Regions from separate parts of the Homo sapiens genome. Here regions 2, 3, 4 and 5 are each linked to region 1. The links come from fine-mapping of genetic effects on gene expression. A gene starts in region 1. Each other region holds a variant in brackets. All regions are shown on one strand. Distances are from middle to middle. Region 1 holds the start of CSNK1D (casein kinase 1 delta). Region 2 overlaps CSNK1D (casein kinase 1 delta). Region 3 has its middle 5.6 kb from the start of LINC01970. Region 4 overlaps SLC16A3 (solute carrier family 16 member 3). Region 5 overlaps CD7 (CD7 molecule).

Evidence for each region. PIP is the estimated chance that this variant, and not a neighbour inherited with it, causes the effect.
Region 2: its variant is fine-mapped to the expression of CSNK1D in whole blood (TOPMed, PIP above 0.99).
Region 3: its variant is fine-mapped to the expression of CSNK1D in whole blood (INTERVAL, PIP above 0.99).
Region 4: its variant is fine-mapped to the expression of CSNK1D in whole blood (TOPMed, PIP above 0.99).
Region 5: its variant is fine-mapped to the expression of CSNK1D in blood mononuclear cells (TOPMed, PIP above 0.99).

The regions. Positions count from the first base shown.
Region 1 is chr17:82,271,601-82,276,699 of GRCh38, reverse strand. CSNK1D (casein kinase 1 delta) reads left to right here and starts at 3,000. Exons shown (of 9, transcript NM_001893.6): 1 at 3,000-3,394. The coding sequence starts at 3,319. LOC124904089 (a long non-coding RNA gene) reads right to left here and starts at 2,922. Exons shown (of 2, transcript XR_007065953.1): 1 at 1,627-2,922. RefSeq lists silencers at 2,861-3,070, 3,311-3,500, 3,551-3,600.
Region 2 is chr17:82,247,791-82,252,889 of GRCh38, reverse strand. CSNK1D (casein kinase 1 delta) reads left to right here. Exons shown (of 9, transcript NM_001893.6): 5 at 286-456; 6 at 1,363-1,511; 7 at 3,288-3,459; 8 at 3,876-4,015. Among named protein-coding and RNA genes, the nearest start is that of MIR6787, 14 kb to the right of the region's middle. RefSeq lists an enhancer at 1-589. The variant A/G (reference allele first, on the strand shown) is at 2,866.
Region 3 is chr17:82,295,899-82,300,997 of GRCh38, reverse strand. No RefSeq gene overlaps it. Among named protein-coding and RNA genes, the nearest start is that of LINC01970, 5.6 kb to the right of the region's middle. RefSeq lists enhancers at 191-260, 2,430-3,061. The variant C/T (reference allele first, on the strand shown) is at 3,016.
Region 4 is chr17:82,239,429-82,244,525 of GRCh38, reverse strand. SLC16A3 (solute carrier family 16 member 3) reads right to left here. Exons shown (of 5, transcript NM_004207.4): 5 at 4,440-5,097. It overlaps CSNK1D (casein kinase 1 delta), which reads left to right. Exons shown (of 9, transcript NM_001893.6): 9 at 1-1,859. Among named protein-coding and RNA genes, the nearest start is that of MIR6787, 5.3 kb to the right of the region's middle. RefSeq lists enhancers at 584-663, 4,955-5,097. The variant G/A (reference allele first, on the strand shown) is at 2,970.
Region 5 is chr17:82,309,930-82,315,028 of GRCh38, reverse strand. CD7 (CD7 molecule) reads left to right here. Exons shown (of 4, transcript NM_006137.7): 4 at 1-156. Among named protein-coding and RNA genes, the nearest start is that of CD7, 5.1 kb to the left of the region's middle. RefSeq lists an enhancer at 223-810. The variant A/G (reference allele first, on the strand shown) is at 2,895.

The sequences.
Region 1 (5,099 bases):
TGCGCCACTGCGCTCCAGCCTGGGCAACAGAGCGAGACTCCATCTTAAAAAAAAAAAAAAAGGCCTGTACTTCCCTACTCCTCCAGCTCCCTCTCGCACACGGTCTGCACACACTCCAGCTGCCCTTCACCTTCTGCCATGAGTGGAGGCAGCGGCAGCAAGGCCCTCACTAGAGGCAGACGCCCGATCTTGAACTTTTGAGACCTCAGCATCGTGAGCTGTGTTAGGCTGTGGTTGCCTTGCTATAAAGAAATACTTAGGACTGGGCAATTTTAAAAGAAAAGAGGGCCGGCATGGTAGCTCATGCGTGTGATCCCAGCACTCTGGAAGGCCAAGGTGGATGGATCACTTGAGCTCAGAAGTTTGAGACCAGTCTGGGCCAGTAAGACCCCATGTCTACAAAAAATATGAAAAATTAGCCAGGTATGGTGGCGTGTGCCTGTAGTCCCAGCTACTCAGGAGGGTGAGGTGGGAGGATCACCTGAGCCCAGGAGGCAGAGGTTGCAGTGAGCCGAGATCACGCCACTGCACTCCAGCCTGGGCAACAGAGCGAGACCCTGTGTCAAAATAAATAAATAAATAAATAAATAAATAATGAAAAGAGGTTTACTTGGCTCCTGGTTCTGCAGGCTTTACAGGAGGCATGGTGCTGGCCTCTGCTCAGCTTCTGGGGAGGCCTCCGGAAGCTTCCAATCATGGTGAAAGGCAATGGGGGAGCGGGCACGTCACATGGCCAGAGCAGGAGCGAGCGAGCGAGTGAGCGAGAGAGAGAGGTGCCCCACACTTTTTAAATAACCAGATCTCAGGAGAACTCACTATCTCAAGGACAGCACCAAGGGGATGGTACTAAACATTCCTGAGAAATCCACCCCCATGACCCAGCCACCTCCAGCCTTGGGGTTTACAATTCAACATGAGGTTTAGTGTGGACAAATATACAAATTACCTCATGATTCTTCATAAATTTCCCAGCCTCAGGTGTTTCTTGATAGCAACAGTAAAGGAGCTAAGACACTGTGGCGTTCAGTTGTATCAGGACAGACCTGGGTGTGGGCTGGCCCTCATACGTCCTGCCGGGAGCTCTGGGGGCTTTCCAGTCTGCAGGTCGGGACGTCCTTCTACTCTGAGATGTTCTAGTATCATCAAACCGCCCCACAGACCATGCCTGGAGACTCTGCCTCACACATCCGTTCCCAGCGGTCACCAGCCCCGCATCCCTCCCTCGTCACCGCATCTGTGCGTCTCCTCTGTGACGGAGGCTGTTCCTTGGCAATGACTATCCTCAGCTTCAGCCCCCTGCTGACAGTTTTCTAGCTCAGAACCTGGCCATGTCTGCACCCTCCCTGTCTTCTCGGAAGGGGTGCTGTCATTCCCTGGGCTACACACCTGCTTTGTCCTCCTCTCTCTGACCCCAGGGCTCCAGGGTACCACTGTCCTCTTCCTTTGTCAGTTTGTTGTGGCTGGGGCTGGTGGTGGGGGAGCCACAGCAATCAGCCTGCCTCACCTTGCCCAGCCCGCATGTTCCCAGGGCTCCTGCCATCCCCACTACACCACAGCCCAGTCCGTGTGCACGGGTTATAGAGTCAAGACACAAACACACAAAAGCCAGGCAGACGGGCACAGTACCTGCCGCAGCTGCATGAAGCTTGGGGCACTATGGGTGAGAAGAGCTAGAAATGTTGGGGCCATCAGAGCCCAGGAGGACCAGCCGAGGGAGGAGCAGCTGACAGGTGGGCAGGTGCCCCTAGTCAGGGACAGCAGGACTCCCCAGGAAGAAGGATCACAGCCACCCGTGGGAGAGCTGGACTCTGTTCATCAACAGAAAAGCCGTGAGCGATTCCGCCAACAAGGTCAGTTTTACTAGTCTGGCAGCCCCCCACCCCCGGCTTCTGTAACTCAGAAACTGGGCAGTTCCGACTGCCCATCCCTCATTAGTGACTGATGGTGGTCTGGCCGGCGGCATCTCCTGTCTCCAGGCCCTGCTATGTAATTTCGGGAATGGACGCCCGTCTCCCCGACCTGACCTCCAGCTGTTTGGAGCTGAGGGGTGGAGAGGAAAGACTGGGGGGTGGAGAAAGGCGAGCACCACTGTGGGGCCTGTGGGGGCTGCTTTCCTCTTCTGCAGTGACCTGGACGGGCTGAGGCTGCTGTCTCACTCACACGGCGGTGCCCACACCACAGCCCTGGTATGCTAATGCGTCAAAACACACCTTCACCTGTTTCACATTCTTGAGTTTCAGCGAGGATGCGACAGGTCTCGAGACACATGGACGTGGGACCATGGGGACGGGTTCTTCAAGGTCCCCATGCACCTGCAGCCTGGGGGGGCTTGTCTGAAGGGCTTTCTTCCCAGTGATGGGAATCAAAGGCCCCGATCTTTGAAGCTGGCCATCAGCCTGAACGTCCACTCCTTGTTTCCTTTGCAAGGAGGAACATTCAGATCCAACACAGATAAGAATGTTGACTCCGTCTCCAGGCCGCAGGGACTGGAGGGAGGCAGGTGGTCTGGCCTCATTTTGTGAAAGGTGGTGGCTTTGTCCTCAATCTTCAGGCTGGACATCAGGACCTCCCAGGGCGCGGGCCTGCTCTGTCTCTGGCCTTAGGTGTCAGGAGGTAAGGCCGCAGACGCTGACGTACTGGGATGCCCCAAGCCCGGGAACTGGCAGCCCAGTGAGGGGGTCTCACCTGTGTCCCCTGAGCCTGGCCTGTCACTCTGTCCACGCCTCAGCTACCTGTCCCCTCCTGCAAAGGGCACCGCCTGTCGCGAGGAACTCACCTGGCTTCCTCGACATCTCGGGGGACACACGAAAAGCCCCCGCGAGAGCAGCAGGAGCCTGCACGTGGAAGGGGCTGGCGGCCCGAGGTCCCGGGGTAACAGGAGGGCAGAGGGGCTGGGCACGGCGCAGGGTCGGGAGGAGGCCTGGAGCGCTCGCCCCGCCCGGCCCCGCCCCTGGAGCGCCGCGGCCCCGCCCCGCCGGGTTGCTAGGGGAAGTGACGTCACAGCGCGATGGCGGCGGCTCCTTTAGGCAGCTGAAAGGGGATTTAGGCCCGGAAGATCCGAGTCCATCCGCGGCGGGGAGAGGGCAAGCGGGACCGGTAGGGGCCGGAGCAGCGGCGGCGGCGCTCGGACTGTCCCATCCGCCCCGTATTGAGGCGCTGGGAGCGGCGGGGCGACAGGAAAGCGATGGTGAAAGCGGGGCCGTGAGGGGGGCGGAGCCGGGAGCCGGACCCGCAGTAGCGGCAGCAGCGGCGCCGCCTCCCAGAGTTCAGACCCAGGAAGCGGCCGGGAGGGCAGGAGCGAATCGGGCCGCCGCCGCCATGGAGCTGAGAGTCGGGAACAGGTACCGGCTGGGCCGGAAGATCGGCAGCGGCTCCTTCGGAGACATCTATCTCGGTGAGGCCCCGCCGCCCCCGCCCGCCGCCCGAAGACCCGGGCCCTGCGGCTGCCAAGACCAAGCGCGATCGCGGAAGGAAGTGGTGGCCCCCGCGGGGTCTCCGCGCAAGTCCCGGCACCGCCGGATCGTGGCCAGAACCCAACGGCCACTAGGCTAGCGCGGCCAGGGGTGGGGAGGGCAGTGGGGAGCGGACGTGGGGGAGGGGCAGGACCAGGTCGGGGGAGCAGGGTCTGGAGAGGGGAGGGTTGGGGAAGGAGGGGATAGGGGAGCTGACCCGGGGTGGGGCATGGTCTCTGGGGAGCCGACCTGGGTAGGGGCAGGGTCGTGGGGAGCGGACTCGGGAAGGGCTGGGTGGGGCGTGGGGAGGCGGGCCTGGGGGAGGGGCAGGGCGGGGGTGGGGGCAGCGGGCCGTGGGAGGGGAGGGGGTAGGGCTGGGGCCGCGAAGCGGGCGTCGGCTTCCTCTACGCCTAAGGTCACCGCAGTAAACAAAGGCCACGCTCTTTCTTCCGCAGCCCGGTCCGGGGCTGTCTGGCTGCCCCCTCAGAGGCTGCCCCGGTGTCTTGCATTCGTGGGGGAAAATGTCAGAAAGACCCAAATGCCGTGTGGAGCGGGGGAGTGGCCCGGCTAGGAGTGGGGCTTGCCCTCCCGCTGGGGGTTCTCTCTGAACGGTTCCCCTTGGCCTTGGAGCGGTGACTGAGTGCAAATGAGCAAGGGTTAAGTTTAGGTGAATGTAGAGAAAGTCACACAGGATTAAGATGCTGGCAAGATGAGAGGCAGATGAGGTAGTTGTACTCATGAGGTGTCCTTTAGACTGTAACAGTCTCAAGGTAGATTTCAAAAACAATGGGATTAGAAGGTTTTGGGTTGTGTCATATTTACAATGGAAAAATATGCACGTGAACACAAGTGTGATGAAAGGTTGGCTTAAATCTTCAAGTTTGTAATTTTTTTTTTTTTCCTGAGACGGAGTTTCGCTCTTGTTGCCCAGGTTGGAGTGCAATGGCGTGATCTCGGCTCACCGCAACCTCTGCCTCCCAGGTTCAAGCGATTCTCCTGCCTCAGCCTCCCGAAAAGCTGGGATCACAGGCGTGCGCCACCACGCCTGGCTAATTTCGTATTTTTAGTAGAGACGGGGTTTCTTCATGTTGGTCAAGGCTGGTCTCGAACTCCGGACCTCAAGTGATCCGCCCAGTTCGGCCTCCCGAAGTGCTGGGAAGCCACCGCGCCTGGCCCAAGTTTGTAATTTTAAAGTAACTTAATTTTCCGCACTTGTTAGTGGGATTGTGCAATGCACGAGTTATTCCAAGATCCCCTGAATTTGAGGATATGTAGCCTGAGGCGGTGTGCCTGCAGAGGGGCTGCTGCAGACCTTTGAGGGGAGCTGTTTTCTGTTCCAGCAGCCCTAGCTTTGGGGTGTGTTTTAACTGGGGCACCTGTCAGCTAGGGTCAGGAATCCCCTGGGATGTCAGTAATGCCTCTGGTCATACCTTTTAGATGAAGCCACATGTGGACAGTCTCCAGTTCTCACACCCTTCCCACTTGTCACCAGAGAGAGGACTCAGGACCCGGTGGGCTGACAGCGTTAGGACGAATCCACACATATGGGTGGCTCATACTTTCGGTGCCTGGTTAACCTGCCAGGTGACCCTGTCACATGCCATATTGTTGCTTTTGAACCTGTACATATGCCTTAGTGGACTGCTG
Region 2 (5,099 bases), 24 kb after region 1:
CAGGCTGGCTCGTGACTGCCAGGTGTATGGGGGCAGGCGGATGCTGGGACATTTCTGAGTCACCTGTGATGTGTTTGGGAATTTCCTTAGTATGCATGAGGGGCAGCTCTGGGTGAGAGTGATCTGGGCATGTGTGTCCGAGGTTCGTCTCCACTGGAAGTGCCAGCTGGAGTGATCTGGGCATGTGTGTCTGAGGCTAGTCTCCACTGGAACGGCCAGCCGGGTCTTTTGCTTTGACGTGAGCACGCAAGTGCCGTTCTTCACGCCTTTCCCTTTTCTTTTCAGAACAATCCCGAAGAGATGACTTGGAGTCTCTGGGCTACGTGCTAATGTACTTCAACCTGGGCTCTCTCCCCTGGCAGGGGCTGAAGGCTGCCACCAAGAGACAGAAATACGAAAGGATTAGCGAGAAGAAAATGTCCACCCCCATCGAAGTGTTGTGTAAAGGCTACCCTTGTAAGTCTCTGGAGGCCTCTTCTCAGCGGAGCTGCTCACAGGGGTTGCATATGTGTCGGGTGTGCCGAGACGGCTCAGTCTGGGTTTTGTCAGAAGAGTTGCTCACCTTCCAAAGGGGTGGTGGCAGGAAAGCGGGGCGCTTTTGTGTATGGAGGTAACAGCCTGCCCTCCTGTTCATCTTGACTTACTTGCCAAGTGCCCATCAGCGTGGGGAGTACTTGGAGGCCCTGGAGAGATGGCAGGCAAGGCAGGCCCGAGCCTCAGGGCCCCAAGTGGCTGGAAAGGGATGGACAGGCAGTGGTGGGGCCTCTCTCTGCAGTGGCTGCCCTCTCTGGCCCCCTCCAGGAGCTCGGGAGATTTCCTTTGCATTTGTAGGATTGCCCCAGGATACACACCTCAAATGAAACTAAATTGTGCTTTATGACTTCTTTTTTTTTTTTAAGACACAGTCTCACTCTGTCGCCAAGGCTAGAGTGCAGTGGCGTGATCTCGGCTCACTGCAAGCTCCGCCTCCCGGGTTCATACCATTCTCCTGCGTCAGCCTCCCCGGTAGCTGGGACTACAGGCGCCCGCCACCACGCTCTAGAACTTTTTTTTTTTTTTTTTCAGTAGAGATGGGGTTTCACTGTGTTAGCCAGGATGGTCTTGATCTCCTGACCTCGTGATCCGCCCTCCTCAGCCTCCTAGAGTGCTGGGGTGACAGGCGTGAGCCGCCGCACCCGGCCGTGACTTGAATACTTTTCGATGCTTTCTCAAGGCTTCAGGTCTTAGAAATCTGACAGGTGTTTTGCATCTGTCCTTCTCCCCTTGAGTGTGCAGCAGCAGGAGGTAGACAGCGACGTTGGCAGAGACACCTTGAGTCGCAGTTGGGTTTCATGAGTTAGCTTTGAGTTTCTTGTTTTGTAGCCGAATTTGCCACATACCTGAATTTCTGCCGTTCCTTGCGTTTTGACGACAAGCCTGACTACTCGTACCTGCGGCAGCTTTTCCGGAATCTGTTCCATCGCCAGGGCTTCTCCTATGACTACGTGTTCGACTGGAACATGCTCAAATTTGTAAGTCGCACTGCCAGCACGTTCGCTGAGTGTGGTGTGCGGGGGATGGCTTGTCAGTGAGAGGCCGGCGGCCGTCTTGTTGAGGGGCTGTACCATATAGGGAGTGTCTCTGGTTGTGAAGGGCAAGTGTGTAGTGGGCAGGACCTGGACTGAGTGGGTGTCTGCCTGCCAGAAAGGGGTGCCAAGAAGTAAGACGCCATTAGGGAACGCAGAGGGGTCCATGGAATTCCTGGGTGTGGACAGCAGGAGGCCCCTTCCCTCCCTGTCACCAAGCGGAGCTAGGGCCCAGAGCATGCCCTGGGGGCAGAGGGTGGGGGCTGGGGGTGCGCATTCCCATTCGCTGTGCCACATGGTCGTGGTGCCCACGAGATGAGTGGGGTTGGGGCCTGGTGAGGTGCTACCCGTCTAGCCTGACTGACCCTGTCATGAGCTGATTTTCCCTGTGGCTTTCTTGATGCGGTGTGAGTATGCAGTGGAGCCTCTAAAACAGGCAGCCCAGCCCTGGGTCCATGTCTGAGCTGAATTACTTTTCAGACACCGCTGTCAGAAATGAAGCTCCTGTGGAACTGTTGTGTTCCTTCATTAAAAACTTACTGTTTTGTTGTCAGTTTTAAATAGAATTTGGAGCTTTTCCAGGCAGCAGTCTGATGGAGGAGCAGAACTGCCTCTTGGGAGGGTACAAAAACGGCAGCCTTGTCCAGTAGTCGTGCAGGGGCCAGGGAGGGGCGGGGTCTCCAGATGCTGGGAGGGGTGCACTCTGTTCATCTTGACTTACTTGCCAAGTGCCCATCAGCGTGGGGAGTACTTGGAGGCCCCGGAGAGATGGCAGGCGAGGCAGGCCCGAGCCTCGGGGCCCAGGTGCCGGGAGGGGTGCACTCGGCAGGGCAGATCAGTCCCTCTGCCGGGGCTGTGCTGCCTCGGGAGGAATCAGAGCGACCCTCCTGCGGCATTAGAGTCACCCGGCCCTCAGAGCAGGCTAGGCCAGCGTTTTCCGTAAATGGCAGCATGAGGAGTCTGGGCGGTGCTGGCCGCACGGTGCTGCAGCCGCAGGTGTGTCGGTCTGTGTGTTGCCTGGTGAACGTGGCTGTGTCCAATGAGCTGTACTTGCAGGAAGAAGTGGCACCTGGGTTTGGCCCCGGGGCTGTAGTTTGCAGGCCCCTGCCGCACAGCATTGGCAGTTAGAATCTGCTTTTTCATAGGTTGCTGTCTCGGCTTAAAATCTGACCTCCCCACCCCCGTGCATCTGGATAGTGCAGCACAGATCCGGCTGCCGGCTGCTGGCCACGCCACCACACCTGCACAGGCTGTTGGAGGCTGCAGGGTCCGGACCCTGAGTGTACTCCTCGTCCGACCA[A/G]ACGCTCTCATCCCCACCCCGCTTTCCTCCCCAGCTGTCACCATTTGGGGCCTGTCTTTGGCCTCCGATGGTTCCTGTCCCTCTCCTCTTTCTGCACGTGTTAGTGAGCATGTTCACAGAGCAGCAGGGGGTAGCTGCTGCCCATTTGGAAGTTTAAGGAAGTTCTGAGCCCACAGGGAGATGCCATGGCGAGTGGGGTTTTTTCGATTGTTGGGGGAGCTGAGAGGCCTGGCTCTGACCCCTTGTGGGGATGATGCTGTCATCCCATGAGGAGAAACGTGCAGCCTGTGGGGGGCTTTGCAGGCAGTCTCGTCCCAGTGCCCTTTGGTAGGTATTTTCTCACGTGGCCGGGGCAGCCTAGGACCTAGGGTTGCTTTCTGCCAAAGCTGGTTCCATTCCGGCCTCACCTCCTGCCTCCTCAGGGTGCCAGCCGGGCCGCCGATGACGCCGAGCGGGAGCGCAGGGACCGAGAGGAGCGGCTGAGACACTCGCGGAACCCGGCTACCCGCGGCCTCCCTTCCACAGCCTCCGGCCGCCTGCGGGGGACGCAGGAAGTGGCTCCCCCCACACCCCTCACCCCTACCTCACACACGGGTGAGTGCCCCCCTCCCAGCGCTCTGGGGCTGGCTCTGGGGTGACTTCTTGTGTCTTGGGGTTGGTGGGGACAACAGGGTACTTGGTGGTGGACACTAAGTGCCCTGTGTCAGGCGATGCTCGCTCCTGAGGGTGGATGAGCCAGGCTGCCCAGGCGCCTTTAGAAATGCCGGCACCTGCTGGTGTGCGTGATTCCTCCCGCATCTCACGTTCCTCCCCTGTGAGCCCCTTGACCTCGCTCCCATGTCCCTTTGTGTCCCTCCGGCCGGATCTGAGTGTTGGTGGCCATCGGCCACAGCCAGGTCCTGACTGTCCAGGCAGCCCAGGGTCCTCTCTGGCCACAGCCTCTCATAGAAAGCCCCGAGTGAGAGGCAGCAGACGGGGGCGGCCCACTCCGTTTCTCTCCCTGTCCTCAGCTAACACCTCCCCCCGGCCCGTCTCCGGCATGGAGAGAGAGCGGAAAGTGAGTATGCGGCTGCACCGCGGGGCCCCCGTCAACATCTCCTCGTCCGACCTCACAGGCCGACAAGATACCTCTCGCATGTCCACCTCACAGGTAGGTGCAGAGCTCCCGGGCGGGCGCTGGGCCTCGGGCTACCCCGTCCGAGTCAAGAGCGGGCTGTGGTTTCTCCAGGGCTTCTTCTTTCCTTTCTTCCCCCCATTTTTGAGAGTTTTTAATCTCGCCAGGGTGTGGCGTCTTGGTTGCAGATGAGGCTTCTCGGGAGGGCCTGGGAGACATGCTGGGCCGTCATGGGGCTTGTCTCCTGGTTGCAGGTGGCCAGTCTCAGGTCTCAGGTCCCTGAGGCCAGCAAACCGTGGGGGCTTTCTCCTGCTGTTTGAGTGCCCCGCTGCCCGCAGCCGTCCCCAGGCAGCTGACACCGCTCGCCTGCTTGCGCCCCATTGTGGGTGCCCCCAGCCCGAGGGAGCCTTCCTCATTCTTCCTCATTCTTGCCACTGGCCAGGGATGGAGGCCCGTAGGGACCTCCACGGGCTTCTTGTGAGACCCTCCCTGGTGGCATGCCCTGCAACGAGGCTTTCCTTCTTTTGACGGCCTCACCTGTCTTCCCTTGGACGAGAAGTACCCTGTTGCGCAGCCCAGGCCTAGCCACGGCCACCGCCTCTTCAGCATCCTGCAGCGGTCTCTCCTCTCCTCGCTCTGGCTTTTGTTGTCTTTTGCGTTTGCTAACGTGCTCTTTGAACTAGAACAGCTTTCTCCATATGGATCCATTATATTTCTTCAAATAGTTTTCTGGGTTGTTCGCCAACAGGGGCAGGGTTAGTGGGGCAGGGCTGTTTCACCAGCAGGCATCCTGGGGGGTGCCCAGATCCCCCACGGGTCTTCCGGATGAGCAGGAACTCAGTTCAGAAATGCCCTGGAGCCTGGCTCTGGGCTTGTGGGGAGGTGTTTGTTGGGATCACAGGATGGAGCCAGGCCTGCTGCCGTGAGCGGGGCTGGGTGTAGCTGGCTAGCCAGGAACATGCCGGAGTGGGGAGCACTCTTGACCACTTGCCGTCTTTTAATGATTGGGGTTTTACTGCACGTTTCTAATTCACTAATAATTTCACTAGAAACAGACCTTTTTGTATAACTTCTTCCCAAAGAGACCAAAGATGCAGGGATTTTGGCTTCGTGGTTATTT
Region 3 (5,099 bases), 24 kb before region 1:
CCCCAGCCGAGAAGGACTGCCTGCCCTCTGGTGGCGGGACGGGGCGTGGGTGGGAGACCGCCTGCCAGCGCTTCCTGGCCTGGAAGGGAGTTGGGCTAACAGGTGGGGAAACTGAGGCCCAGAGGTAGCAGAGACTTTTGACAAGAGATGGAGCCCCCCTCCCCGCCAGGGCACCTCAAGGTGAATTCCCAGTCGGCTGGGCAGTCATGGACCAATGGGAAGGTCCCCCCAGGGCTGTCGCCCTCTCACAGAGAAATGTACATCCCACACGTTCTGCATGCTTTGGGGAGAGTCCAGGGTTAGGAAGCCCAGAGTATGGGATTTGTTTTTTTTTTGAGATGGAGTCTCGCTCTGTCGCCAGGCTGGACTGCAATGGCATGATCTCAGCTCACTGAAACCTCTGACTCCCTGGTTCAAGCGAGTCTCCTGCCTCAGCCTTCCGAGTAGCTGGGATTACAGGCACGCGCCACCACACCCAGCTACATTTTGTATTTTTAGTAGAGACAGGGTTTCACCACGTCGGCCAGGATGGTCTTGATCTGACCTCGTGGTCCGCCTGCCTCGGCCTCCCAAAGTGGGATTACAGGTGTGAGCCACCGTACCCGGCCCAGAGTATGGGACTTTAAGAGCCAGCCTGAGAGCTGGGGTTTGTTGGGAGCAGCAGGGCTCACACCCCAAAGTCAGCGGTGTGTGGAACTTCAGGGGACAGTGGGCAAGCAGCCCATCTTCTCAGCACACAGAGAGGTCCCGAAGCCAGTAAGGAAGAGAAGAATGCACGGTCCGGTCTCAAACAAGATAACAGCTTAGATACATGTGAAAATGCCCAACTGCACTCACTGTTACAGAAATGCAAAGTGCAATTTGCACCCATGAAATTGTAAGCTTCAAAAATCCGTAGTCCAGTATTGGCGACAGCTTGGGAACACAGACGGTCTCCTGCACCAGGTTTTGTTCACAGAATAGAAGAGGAATGCACACAACACAAGAAGAGAATAGCAACCTGGCCAGCGCAGGACTCAGCCTGTAACCCCAGCACTGTGGGAGGCCGAGGTTCAAGACCAGCCTGGCCAACATGGCGAAACCCCGTCTCTACTAAAAATACAAAAATTCACTGGGCGTGGTGGCAAGTGCCTGTAATCCCAGCTACTCAGGAGGCTGAGGCAAGGAGAATTGCTTGAACCCAGGAGGCAGAGGTTGCAGCGAGCTGAGATCGCACCACTGCACTCCAGCCTGTGTGGCAGAGTGAGACTCCGCCTCAAAAAAAAAAAAAGAAAAGAAAAGAAAAGAAAAGGAAAATAGCAACCCACCAGAAAAGTGGGAGGTGCCTGAGGAGATGCAGAGGCCGGGACTCAGGCGTGCCCCTCACCGTGTCGGGGACCTCGCAGCCTCAGAGCCTGGCCACCCATTGGTCCCTCGAAGGAGAAAGACCTGACCTTGGTCCCATAGTCCAGCCCCTTCCACCTCTTGAATTTTTACCATGGACCTCGGGCCTCTTCTGGGTTTGTTGGTTGGTTGGTTTTGTTTTACTGAGTTACTCCTGGAAGGCTGGCAGGAAGTTAGGCATTCACTTGGTTCTTTCCACAGCAATTGTGGGGACTTTATGTGCCCGGCCCAGGCTCAGTGTTGGAGATGGGGCCCAAATCCCTGCCCCGCTGCCCTCCCGCCGGCCTGCCCTGTGACCTCCAGCTCCCACGTGGCTTCCCAGATGCTCCTCAGCCAGCCCCACAGTCGCAGAAGGCCAAGGCCCCTTAAATCCCCCATTTTATAGAAACCTGTAGGTGCCCCCTAGAGCTTCTGCTGCTCTGAACCCACCCTGGTGCATGGCGTGTCCCTGCATCACGTGTGCCCACCTGCCTCCTCAGATGCAATTCTGACATCTTCAGACGCAATTCTGACATCTTCATGACCCCACATTCAACTCCCTGCAGGGCCCGAGGCCACCGTCCAGTGAGGGGCATGCCCTGGGTCCCGTCCTCTGGGACTTTACCAACATTCGGTCACTGTGGATGCCTGGAGCTCCAGGGCTTTTGCCAACAGAGTGGAGAGCTCCTCCTTCTGAACACGGTCTCCAGTCCCATCTCCCAGACCTCCGGCTTGTCACCCCAGGCCCTTCGGGAGTGAAAATCACGACCCTGCCCACTGGGCCCGTCTGCAAGGCTTAAGCCAGCGTTCTGCAGGTGGACAGTGGCTGTCCCATTTCCCGGAGCTCCCTGGGCCCCCTGCCGCCCCCCTGGAGCCCTGGTCTGGCTGTTGGCAGCCTCCCCTTCTCCTCTGCTGCCTTGGAAGGTGTGGGAGCCTCTGCGGGGTCCCGCCTCTCCCTCATGCCACACTCTCCCCTCTGTGCCCTTGCTCAGCCCCAAGTTCCCTGGCCACATCGCAGGTGGCAGGCGCTGACATTGCCTCTGCCAGCCCCAGAGCCCGGCCCCGGGCACCTCTACCACCTACAGGGTCCTCAACTGTAGCTCTGACCCTGGAGGACTGTGGAAGGCTGCTCTGGCTAGAGTGACCCGCCAGGTCCAGGGATATCCTGTGGGGACAGGGAGGAGCTTGGAGCTGGGCGAGGGGGCGCCGTCCTCAGGAAGGTTGCCCAGCCGCTCGCTGCAGCTCTGAGGTTTGGCAAAGGTTCCACTCTGCCGAGCTGGTGTTTGTGTGATCATTTCCTTGCAATGACGTGGGTTCCACTGCTCACAGTCCCCAGGGCATGTCATCCCTCCCAGCCCACAACTTCCGGGTAGACGGTGCCGGGGGTTTACTGAAGGAGACAATCGGGGTGTTGGATGGAAACCTGCCCCTCAGGGCAAGCATCTGGGGTGGGGACACAGCACACGCAGCCTCCAGCAAACACGAGGGGCCGGAAGGGGCTCAGGCCCAAGTGCGCCCTCACCAGACCCGCTCCCCACACGCACGCACACAAGCTTCCTGCACACACACGCTCCCGCACCACACGCCCGCCTCAGCCCTGCGTGACTGTCCCCCAGCCTCGCCCCTCCCGGCCGGCCGTTCCTGTTCCAGCGC[C/T]TCCTCCTCCTCCCCAGCCTCGCTGGCTCTTGCTCAGCCCTTCTGGCCTCCGTCCAGGAGGAACCTGGGGCCAGGCGCTTCCCGCACCCAGCACAGCAGCTCTCACCTCACTGTACCGGGAACCGGAGATGAGTCTCTGTTTTCTGTTTCGTCAGCTTATGAGTAATTTATAAATGTAAAAACAAGGACAATAAGAAAAACCTTTATTAACATGTTTAATATGAACATAAGCAAAGAAAACCTCCTTGTACCTGTGGCCAGTAAGTTTGCAAGCACAGACATCTTAAGCAAAGAAGAAAGCCCTTCTGCTCACGTGAGTTGTGGTCCAGGGGCTGGTCACAAAATAGCGCGTGATGACATCCTTCCTGCCACCGACTGCAGGAGAAATCCACCGTCCGCTCGCTCACCGATCACCCACAGGACATTGTGTTCCCCCACCGCTGGCGTCACCGGCCGCGGGCTCCTGGCTCCGTCTGACTCATCTTCTCCCACCAGGTTTCTTTTTGCCACTGTGGGCAGCAGTTGGAAGATCCTGAGCTCTCGGCTGTGTTCTCATTCCACCTCGAAGAGGATGCAGGACCCAGGGCAGCTTGCGGCAAAGCTGCAGGGTGGCACGGTGTTGGGCCATCCTTCCGGATGCCCAATCTTAGGATTGCAGTCACTGTGGCATAGCTGGGAGCCATGGATGGGTGATAATTCCATGGATAATTCCAGGATGATGGACTAGCAGACATCTCATGATAGGAAAGATAAGACCACTGGGATACATAAGTCATATGTTTTACAGGTTTATGAGAAGTTTATCTGCCTGACAAGATGGGTTGATTTGTGCATCTTAGGTCAGGATAGGATGCGTTTTACTCTATTACAAAAGCAAAAGTAACTTTGTGTTCTCTTTGCACTTTGGAAGACCCATAAGAATATTAAACTCATGAGCTGCCAATCCTTATAACATAACTGCTCCAAAAAGCCATTCTAAAACTAGCTTCATGGGGCGCTGGGGGAAGGCGGGAAGGGAAGGAAGGATGGGAGGAGGAAGAGGAGGCTGAGGGGGGTGGAGAGGAGGGAGGGAGGGGCAGCCAGCAGCTGGCAGGTGGTTGGGAGCTCAGGTTCCGGGGCTTCCAGGCATCATGCAAGCTAATGTTTACATCCCCAGGCAGAAATCAGAATATAGGCTCTTTTCATATGTAACATTTCATTTGGCCTATTTGACAGAACGTTAAATAAAATGTCCACTAAACCTCATCACTACTGAGTTGCTAATACTCTCCTTGCAACATGACTGAAACCAGCAGTGCAGGGAGCTGCCCAGAACCAGGAGACCAGAAAGCCATCCTTAGCAACGTCATCTGCAACGCAATTTAAGTGGTGCCTTTTAGACCAACTGCACTGTTGGTATTTTACCCAAGGTTTTGGGGCACAGAGGTATTGGAAGATTCCTTTTCTGGATCATAAGCCACTTCAAAAACCCTCCTGTAATAGTTCATTTCCAATGAAATGCCATTAGGGCAGCATTAGTCACTGCAATCAAGGTACGGAACTCGCCTAAGTGTCCGTCAACGAATGAATGGATAACGAAGAATGCCGGGTCTGTCCCGCAGATCCTGGCCGACGGGTGAAATGAGTACTCAGACACAGGTATGCAGTGTAAGACCAGCTAGGGGGCTGCCTGGCTCTAGTGGCCAGAGAACAGCCTGGAGAAGCTGGAGCTGCTTGCTTTTTTTTTTTTTTTTTGAGATGGAGTCTCGCTCTGTCACCCAGGCTGGAGTGCAGTGGCACAATCTCGGCTCACTGCAAGCTCCGCCTTCCGGGTTCACGCCATTCTCCTGGCTCAGCCTCCCGAGTAGCTGGGACTACAGGTGCCCGCCACCACGCCCAGCTAATTCTTTTGTATTTTAGGTAGAGATGGGCTTTCACCGTGTTAGCCAGGATGGTCTCGAACTCCTGACCTCATGATCCGCCCGCCTCAGCCTCCCAAAGTGCTGGGATTACAGGCGTGAGCCACCGCGCCCGGCCACTGTCTGCTTTTACTCAGTGCAGGCACAATGCCGAAAACCTGGAGCCCACACAACCTGTAGGTAATT
Region 4 (5,097 bases), 32 kb after region 1:
GAATTGCAGAGAATCAGACTCCTTTTCCAGGGCCTCAGCTCCCTCCAGTGGTGGCCGCCCTGTACTCCCTGACGATTCCACTGTAACTACCAATCTTCTACTTGGTTAAGACAGTTTTGTATCATTTTGCTAAAAATTATTGGCTTAAATCTGTGTAAAGAAAATCTGTCTTTTTATTGTTTCTTGTCTGTTTTTGCAGTCTTACAAAAAAAATGTTGACTAAGGAATTCTGAGACAGGCTGGCTTGGAGTTAGTGTATGAGGTGGAGTCGGGCAGGGAGAAGGTGCAGGTGGATCTCAAGGGTGTGTGCTGTGTTTGTTTTGCAGTGTTTTATTGTCCGCTTTGGAGAGGAGATTTCTCATCAAAAGTCCGTGGTGTGTGTGTGTGCCCGTGTGTGGTGGGACCTCTTCAACCTGATTTTGGCGTCTCACCCTCCCTCCTCCCGTAATTGACATGCCTGCTGTCAGGAACTCTTGAGGCCCTCGGAGAGCAGTTAGGGACCGCAGGCTGCCGCGGGGCAGGGGTGCAGTGGGTGTTACCAGGCAAAGCACTGCGCGCTTCTTCCCCAGGAGGTGGGCAGGCAGCTGAGAGCTTGGAAGCAGAGGCTTTGAGACCCTAGCAGGACAATTGGGAGTCCCAGGATTCAAGGTGGAAGATGCGTTTCTGGTCCCTTGGGAGAGGACTGTGAACCGAGAGGTGGTTACTGTAGTGTTTGTTGCCTTGCTGCCTTTGCACTCAGTCCATTTTCTCAGCACTCAATGCTCCTGTGCGGATTGGCACTCCGTCTGTATGAATGCCTGTGCTTAAAACCAGGAGCGGGGCTGTCCTTGCCACGTGCCAAGACTAGCTCAGAAAAGCCGGCAGGCCAGAAGGACCCACCCTGAGGTGCCAAGGAGCAGGTGACTCTCCCAACCGGACCCAGAACCTTCACGGCCAGAAAGTAGAGTCTGCGCTGTGACCTTCTGTTGGGCGCGTGTCTGTTGGTCAGAAGTGAAGCAGCGTGCGTGGGGCCGAGTCCCACCAGAAGGCAGGTGGCCTCCGTGAGCTGGTGCTGCCCCAGGCTCCATGCTGCTGTGCCCTGAGGTTCCCAGGATGCCTTCTCGCCTCTCACTCCGCAGCACTTGGGCGGTAGCCAGTGGCCATGTGCTCCCAACCCCAATGCGCAGGGCAGTCTGTGTTCGTGGGCACTTCGGCTGGACCCCATCACGATGGACGATGTTCCCTTTGGACTCTAGGGCTTCGAAGGTGTGCACCTTGGTTCTCCCTTCTCCTCCCCAGAGTTCCCCGGATGCCATAACTGGCTGGCGTCCCAGAACACAGTTGTTCACCCCCCCACCAGCTGGCTGGCCGTCTGCCTGAGCCCATGGATGCTTTCTCAATCCTAGGCTGGTTACTGTGTAAGCGTTTTGGAGTACGGGGCCTTGAGCGGGTGGGAGCTGTGTGTTGAAGTACAGAGGGAGGTTGGGGTGGGTCAGAGCCGAGTTAAGAGATTTTCTTTGTTGCTGGACCCCTTCTTGAAGGTAGACGTCCCCCACCCGGAGAGACGTCGCGCTGTGGCCTGAAGTGGCGCAAGCTTGCTTTGTAAATATCTGTGGTCCCGATGTAGTGCCCAGAACGTTTGTGCGAGGCAGCTCTGCGCCCGGGTTCCAGCCCGAGCCTCGCCGGGTCGCGTCTTCGGAGTGCTTGTGACAGTCCTTGCCCAGTATCTAGTCCCCGTCGCCCCGTGCAGGAGACGTAGGTAGGACGTCGTGTCAGCTGTGCACTGACGGCCAGTCTCCGAGCTGTGCGTTTGTATCGCCACTGTATTTGTGTACTTTAACAATCGTGTAAATAATAAATTCATAATGACTTCTACCTTTCTTCCCTCCCCTTTCCATGTGGTCTTTATTTCATCAGCTTGAGAGTTTTCACTGTGTTGAGGTGAACTGTGTGAAAATACTTCTTTGAGATGGCTGTTTGTTCTTTCTCAGCCTGTGGGTGTCTGGGAGCTGGCAGAGCAGGAGAGCTGCCCCCTGGGCCTGCTGCCGGGCAGGGAGGGGTGGCGACTGCTCCTCGCCGTGCTGCCCCCTTGGGCTCTGTTGTGCACACAGAAGTCCACGCACTTTCTGTGTGACGGTTCTGGAGAGTCCCTGCCTTCTCGGGCGGCACCGGCAGCCGCACTCCAGCCGCCTGGGGTGAGCGCATGTCCCTTCCCCCTGCCATAGGGCCGTGGTGCTCAGGGATCCCCCTGTCGCTTGAGCTGTTGAAGCCCAGGAGCTGCCCGATGGCCCTGCACAGGCACAAGGAGATAGGGTTCCTCTTCCCCCCCCCCCCAGAGCACACAGCAGTGGCCCCTATCCAAGGCCTGCGGGGGCTGTCAGGCTGCCAGAGCAGGGAGGTCTGCACCAACTCCTAACCTGTGCTCGTGTGTGGGTGAGCTCAGCCAGGCTAGGCCGCCTCCCCTCCCAGCTCCCCTCCCACCCCCACCTCCACCCAGTACTCTCCACTCCAGGCCACTCCCTTGGCCCCTTGGCCAGGGTCACGCTGCCTAAGAGGAGGATATTTTTGTTTGTAGTGAAAAAGCACAGGGACTTCGGGTCACTTGCCTGGAGGTTGCTCTAAGAACGGTGTAGCTTTCTGAGCCCCACGTTCCGGGGCTGTCCCGCCAACTCTGCCTGTGATGCACTCCTTCCCCAACCGTGGGGATGCCCATGGCCTGGAGCTCTGCCAGCCCCTCCTGCCCAGACTTTGCCTCCTCCCAGGCCCTTCCTCTCAGCCATTCTGGCTGTGCCCTGGGCATCTGAGCTGGCTTCCGGGCCTTCCCTGTCTCCAGCCCGCCTCACGTGGTTCCCTCTTGCTGCCCCAGACTGAGACACCGTGTGGGGCCTCACTGTGGCCGTGGGTGAGGCTCAGCCCCTGCCCCGCTCACCGGCCCCAACCGGAAAACGGCAAGACCCAAGTTCCAGTTCCTGCCTGAGCTTCCCAGGCCT[G/A]CAGCTGCCCTCCTGGGGTTCCCTGCCCTGAGAGGGAGCAGGGGCTGCATGTCCTCAAGGCCTGTTCCATCTCATCTGCGGGGGCATGAGCGGACAGAGTTAGAGGGCTTGTTCTCTGAACCTGAGTCTGGCTGGGTCTGTGTCCTCAGGCATGGTTTAGACGCTGAAAAGAGCAGGCCCTCCAGGTACTGGGCAGCGCCTCCCGGGAGCTTCACCATAGACCCCTCGGAAGGCTGAGGGACGGCAGCGTCCGGGGCCACCAAGCCCTTTCTGGGTCCCCTGTGCCTCCCCCGCCACCTCCCCCGGCACAGGCCTTGCACACATCTGTTCCAGGGCTGTTCTCTGGGAAGGCCCAGGCCGGGCGGACACCTCCCTTCTCCCTCTGATCTGGGATCATGTGAAGAAGTCTGTGCGCCCTCTGCCCCCCACCCCCACCCCAAGTAGCAGTGGGTTCTGGACGGACGTGTCTCTGGTCAGGGGATCTTCACAACACGGTAGACCTGAACCACTTTTGGCACTAGAATCTGTCGCCGGGGTTGGGGGATAGCTCTGCAGCCCACGCACCAGACCTCTGCCCCCAGCTTCTTCCCAGTGGGCTCCGGGCTTCCCTTCCCTTCCCCTTCACTCCTGCCTGTCGGGTCAGAGCAGACCCACTGCCCCATGGCTTCCCTCCTTTAAAGGCACCAGCTGAGGGAGGAGGTAGTAGAACTCAGCGCCCACTCACGCCCACCCTGCGGCACAGGGACCCCAGCCCCCACACGTCCTGTGCCCCCAACCAAGCGTGGCTGCCTTCCCACATCTGGACCACTCCTGAATCACTGAGCACGGTCCCTCAGGCATGTCTGTCCGGGAGCAGCACTGCCTGGCTACTTTGTGTTGAGCCTCTGCTGTGTGCTGTGGGTGTGGGGACCAGAGTGGGGCAGACGAGGGGTGACAGTTGAGCTAGAGAGACTGCTTCCTGCCTAGGGGAGGGTGAGGGCCCGAGATACCTGGAAACAGGGTTCCAGGAGCGAGCACCCCTCACCCGGCCCATGACCTCCCTGCCAGTACCTCTGTAAGCCCAGGTCACTCCTGAGGTCAGCAGAACCAGGGACAGCCAGGTCCAGAGGCGGCAACCCCTGGGTGTGAGCAGTCCCCTGGTGGCCCTGATGTGGGGGTGCCAGCGGGGGAAGGCCATGTGTCCTCTGAGGCCCGGGCTGCCTGCTCCCCACCTCCTCGTCTGCTCCCTGCCTCCTCGTCTTTCTCCCTTCAGCTGCTGGGTGGGACTGGTGGACTCTGCCGAGACACATGGGCCTAGCTGTGCAGAGTCTGACCTTGATCCCTGCAACTGCTGGCACTGCCCGCCAGCCTGAGCCCTGCTAGAGGCCTCCACAGCCCTGAGGCTGCAGGCAGGAGCCTGGGCTGCAAGAGCTCAAGCCCAGCTGGCGCAAGGCCAGGGGCAGATGGGGACAGCTGGACCTGAGATGTGCACTTTTCGCTTGCTTTTCATTGCAGAGGAGCAGGGACATGGCATCTCTCCGGCTGCACGCGGCCCGCCAGGGCACCCGCTGCCGTCCCCAGCGCCCACGACGCACCTACTGAGGGCCCCGGCGGCCTCTGACCGGGCTCCCAGCCACGCAGGCCACTGCTGGCCACGAGGGCAGGTGGGTGTTAGGTGTCCAGGACAAGCCCAAGCGCTGGGCCGGGCTGGATGGAGGACAGGGTGCAAAGACCAGCCCTGGGCACTGACCACACCACGCACACTGCCAGCCAGGCAGAGGGGCGAAAAAGGGAAGGCAGGAGGGTCCTGTTTCTTAAACACAGCAGTGAATAAAGTGGCTTGTTCCACCTCAGCTCCCATCTAACCACCACGTAGGGGCTCCCTGGCACATTTCAGAGGCCACCCTGGCACAGCGGCCTCCAGGCACCTGCCCCGCAGCCCCCTCCATGCAGCGCCTGCCCCTGCTACGAATGCTATGCCGCTGCAGGGAAAGCTGGCGAGGACAGAGCCACGGTAGGAACAGCCAGGCCATCAGCAGACGTGCGAGTCAGGACACAGGCCACACAGCAAAACCACATACTCCTAGGAAACCGTTGGTCCTAACACTCCACCCACACGCAGGTTTATTTCCATCTTCCAGGGGTGGAA
Region 5 (5,099 bases), 38 kb before region 1:
GGGCTTTTCTGTGGGATGGGCCTGGGCACGCGGCCCTCTCCTGTCAGTGCCGGCCCACCCACCAGCAGGCCCCCAACCCCCAGGCAGCCCGGCAGAGGACGGGAGGAGACCAGTCCCCCACCCAGCCGTACCAGAAATAAAGGCTTCTGTGCTTCCTTTTCTGACTTCTGCATTTATTCCTCAGCCAGCAGGAGCCAGGGAGGGAGATGGCTGACACTTCGGACCCTCCCCAAGCCTCCGCCTGGGGCTCTGCAGCTGTGGCCTTGAAGGTGGGGAAGGGAGCACTTCCTCACCCCAGCCCTGAAAGGAGCCCTGGGGGCCTCCCACCCTTGAGAAGAAGCACATCCACCTGTCCAGGTGGAGGCCAGACCCAGGGGCCCTTCAGGAGCCTCAGGATGGCCCCCCATGCCCCCGACCCCCACTCCAGCGACACCGCCTCCCGAGGCCTCCGAGGCCGACCCCAGGGCACACCGGGACCAGCAAGCTGAGCACAAGGCTGCCTCACTCAGCAGCCTGAGCGCTTCCCCTCCCTGCCCCGTCTTACAAGGTGCCTCCTCCTCGTTCTCAGAGGCCCCGGGGGAGACCCAGCTGGACTCTCCAGACCTTCCCCAGCCAGCGCAGCTCCCATGCTGCACGTGGGGACAGGAGCCACCATTCGCCCATTCCCGGGGGAAACAGAGGCACTGGCCCTCAGCCACTGCCTGGGGAGCCGCTAGGGCGCCACACACTGCACTTCATTGCCTCCTGCGACACAGGTGGGGAGCAAAGGCGGGGCCTTATGTGCAGGCTCCTCACCCACCCCTCACACCTGCCCCTCACTCACCCCACACCCACACCTCAAGCCCTTCCTCCTGCCGCACTGGCGCGTTAACCCGGGGTCCTCCTTGTGCAGGACGCGCCCCACAGCCTCATCCAGCTGCCTCTGTGCAGGCTCTAGGCCACTGTCCTGGTGTCCAGGACTCACGTCCAGGAGCCGGCCTCTGGTCAGCACCCCTAGCTTCACATGGGCAGCCTGGGGCGGCCTCCAACCTTGAATGTGGTCTCTGTGACACCTGGAGTAGCTTCTGGGCCGAGGCCCAAGTCCTCTCCAGCCCATCCAGGCCCACCGTCAGGAGGAGAAATCAGAGTGCCCTCTCTCCCCAGGCTGCCGTCATCCCAGGCCGCCGTCATCCCAGGCCGGCAGGGTTGGGGGCTGCTAGCATCCCAGCCACGCTCAGCTGGTGGTCCACTTTGGCCACGGTGGTTTCCTCGGCCCTGCACACGGAGGACCCCCGTCAGTACGAGAGAGTGCCTGGCTGAGAAGACAGCTGCAGACCCAGAGGCTCCGGAGCCCCTGACCGCAGTCACCATCAAATCATCCATCGAGGTCACAGAGACAAAAAACTAATACAATCAACTGCACAGTGGGAACTATTAAACTCTATAAAAACACTACAAACAAAAATAAACAACAAACGTCTACAAATCAGGGTGAAATATTTGACAAGTAAATTACAAATCAAAGGTTAGTATGTTTAATTCATACACAGCCGTATCAATCCATGGGAAGAAAACACCAACTAAAAATACGCAAATTCCAAAAATGAGCGATAGACACAGGAACCATTCCCACTGCTGGGTGTCGACGCAACACCAGTTGAAATGAGGTAACCTTTCGCCAACTGGGTTTGCAAAGATGTAAATATCATTAAAATATAATGCGACCGGGTGAGGTGGCTCACACCTCTAATCCTAGCACTTTGGGAGGCCGAGGCGGGTGGATTGCCTGAGCTCAGGAGTTGGAGACCAGCCTGGGCAACATGGTGAAACCCCGTCTCTACTAAAATACAAAAAAAAAAAAAAATTAGCCGGCTGTGGTGGCGGGTGCCTGTAGTCCCAGCTACTCGGGAGGCTGAGGCAGGAGAAGTGCTTGAACCCAGGAGGCGGAGGTTGCAGTGAGCCGAGATCGCGCCACTACACACCAGCCTGGAGACAGAGTGAGACTCCGTCTCAAAACAAAAACAAAAACAAAAACAATAAAATATAATGCCCCTTTTACCTGGAAATTCCACTTCTATAAAAGTTTCTTTGGGAAATTATCTTTAGGCACAGAAACAAGTTTAGAGGTATAGTGATATTCATTGCAATGTAACTTTCAATTAAAAAATTAACAACTGAAGCCGGGTATCGTGGTGTGCACCTGTGGTCCAGCTACTTGGGAGGCCAAGGTGTGAGGATCACTTGAGCCCAGGAGTTTGAGGCTGCAGTGAGCTGTGACTGTGTCACTGCACTCCAGCCTGGGTGGCAGAGCAAGACCCCATCTTTATCTTTATCTTTTATATATATATATATATATATTTTTTTTTTTGAGGTGGAGTCACCAGGCTGGAGTGCAGTGGTGCGATCTCAGCTCGCTGCAACCTCCCACTCCCTGGTTCAAGCGATTATCCTGCCCCAGCCTCCTGGGTAGCTGGGACTACAGGCGCCCGCCACCACGCCCGGCTAATTTTTTGTATGTTTAGTAGAGACGGGGTTTCACCATGTTGACCAGGATGGTCTCGATCTCCTGACCTCGTGAGTATTTTTATTTTTTATGTTTTAATATTTATTTTAATTTTTAAATAGAGACAGGGTTTTGCCATGTTGCTCAGGCTGGTCTCAAACTCCTGGGCTCAAGCAATCTGCCCGCCTTGGCCTCCCAAAGTGCTGCTGGGATTACAGATGTGAGCCACCGTACCCAGCTGAGACCCTATCTTAAAAATATATATAACAACTAAGGAAGGATGTAAGTCTCCAAGCAGGATAATTTTGTTACAGTGATTATGGCACATGCAGCGTGTGTTAAAAGGGCACCATGGGCCGGGCGCGGTGGCTCACGCCTGTCATCCCAGCACTTTGGGAGGCTGAGGCGGGTG[A/G]ACCACTTAAGGTCAGGAGTTCGAGACCAGCCTGGCATCATGGTGAAACCCCGTCTCCAGTAAAAATACAAACACTAGCCAGGCATGGTGGCGGGTGCCTGTAATCCCAGTTACTCAGGTGGCTGAGGCAGGAGAATTGCTTGAATCCGGGAGGCGGAGGTTGTAGTGAGCTGAGATCACGCCACTGCACTCCAACCTGGGCGACAAGGCGAGACTACATATCAAAATAATAATAATAATAATACTTAAAAAATAAAAGGGCACCATGGAAAAATCTGTGACTTCACCCTAGGACCTTCACACGACCCCGTGAAGCCACACAGACGGCTGCAGAATAGACGTATGAGGCACATTTGTTACAATATAGATGGTGGACGTGTTGCTTACAGGGATGCATTCTGAGAAACGCATCGCTAGGCAGTGTCATCATTGTGTGACTGTCACCGAGTGTGCTTGCGTGACCTAGACTTAGAGCCCAGGGCACACCCAGGCTTCCTGGTGGAGCTGCTGTCATCGTATGGGACCATCGTGGCATGTGCCGCCCGTCGTTGACCAAAACGTCTTTTTTTTTTTTTTTGTATTTTTAGTAGAGACGGGGTTTCACCGTGTTAGCTGGGATGGTCTCGATCTGCTGACCTTGTGATCCACCCGCCTCGGCCTCCCAAAGTGCTGGGACCCCAGGCGTGAGCCACTGCTCCCGGCTGACCAAAACATCTTTATGCTGAGCATGGCTACACCTGTATGTATGTTTATTTCTGCATGACTGAAATAATGGAATAGACTTACGAGGTGCTAACAACGGTTCTCTCTGGGTGATGAGCTGTGGGTTTAGTTCCTTCTTTCTCGTACTTTCTCAGGACTTGTATTTGACAATGGCGTGTTAGCCGGGGCAGGGAGTCGCCAGCCACGACGGGCTTGGCATTCCAGGACACGCTCCCCCAGTTCTCACGGGTTCCCAGGGCTGCAGTCAGCAGTGTCACACTGTCCCCAGGCCCTCATGGTGGCCTCTGCGGTGTCCACGGCCGCTGCTGCTCTCGCTGAACCTGATGCTCGGGCCCTCGGCACCAGGAGACCACCAAACTCTTCTGTAAACATGGATAAGTCACTAAGGTACCCGCATGTGGGGAGCCCCTGGGACCTGTTCACCAGCAGCTGCGTGCCCGCCCGGCTCATGCTGGTTCCCGTGCGTCCAGCACTGACGGGTGGGACCCAGACAGTGACCAGGGAAAAGCTAAGGGGACGCAGGGATAAGGGGCTGGGGCTCGAGGTTCCAAGAACCCAGGCGCTCCACACAGGGGACCTCCGCCAATACGAGAGACAGCCCGGTGGCCTTGGACAAGTCACTGCCCTTCTGGGCCTTCCTTTGCCATCTGTAAATGAGGGAGGTGGGTTTGTGCTCTCCTCAACGGCAGGACTGTGCTTTCCAGGCCGTGCTGGCCAACCTGCCCACACCCTGACCCTCAGCTCCCACCAGAGTGCTGTCTCCACGTCCCCTGTCCTCTTGTCCCTGATAAGCAGAGAGCACCACGAGCCCATCGGCAGAGCTCCTGTCATCTGAGGCATCCCCGGCAGCCTGACCCCACCCCAGGGACCAGAGGCCATGCAGGGACAGGCTGTGCTCCCCAAGGTCCTTCTCCTCTCCCTTAATCCTCTCCGTGCTCAGGGCTGTGCTCCCTGAGATCTTCCTCTCCCTTAATCCCCTTCATGCTTGGGGCCGTGCTCCGCAAGGTCCTCCTCCCCTCCTCATCTCCTCCATGCTCAGAACCGTGCTCCCCGAGGTCCTCCTCTTCCTTAATCCCCTTTGTGCTCAGGCCCGTGCTCCCCAAGATTCTCCTCCCCTCCTCCTGATTCCATCCAGCCTCCACCGCTCATCTCAATGCCCATAATCGTCTCTCCACTTCTCTGTCCACAGCCAGACTGAAAGGACCTGGAGGACAGGGAGGGTCCTTCATAGTGTGTCCCCACCCCCACCCAGGCTCAGGTGTAGAGGGCCCCTGACTGAGCATGCTGTGTCCTGGGCGTGTCGGGTCAATGTGCACACCGGTCGAATTCTCGTGACAAAGAGCATGCACTCTGCCTGAGTCCTGTTTCCCCCACCGTCTATTTCCAGGACTGAGCCTCTCCGGGCTTGGTTTTCTTATTCGTAAAATGGGGACAAGACAATACTTGTCAGAGCAAACGCTCCCCAACTGTACAGGCTTGGCT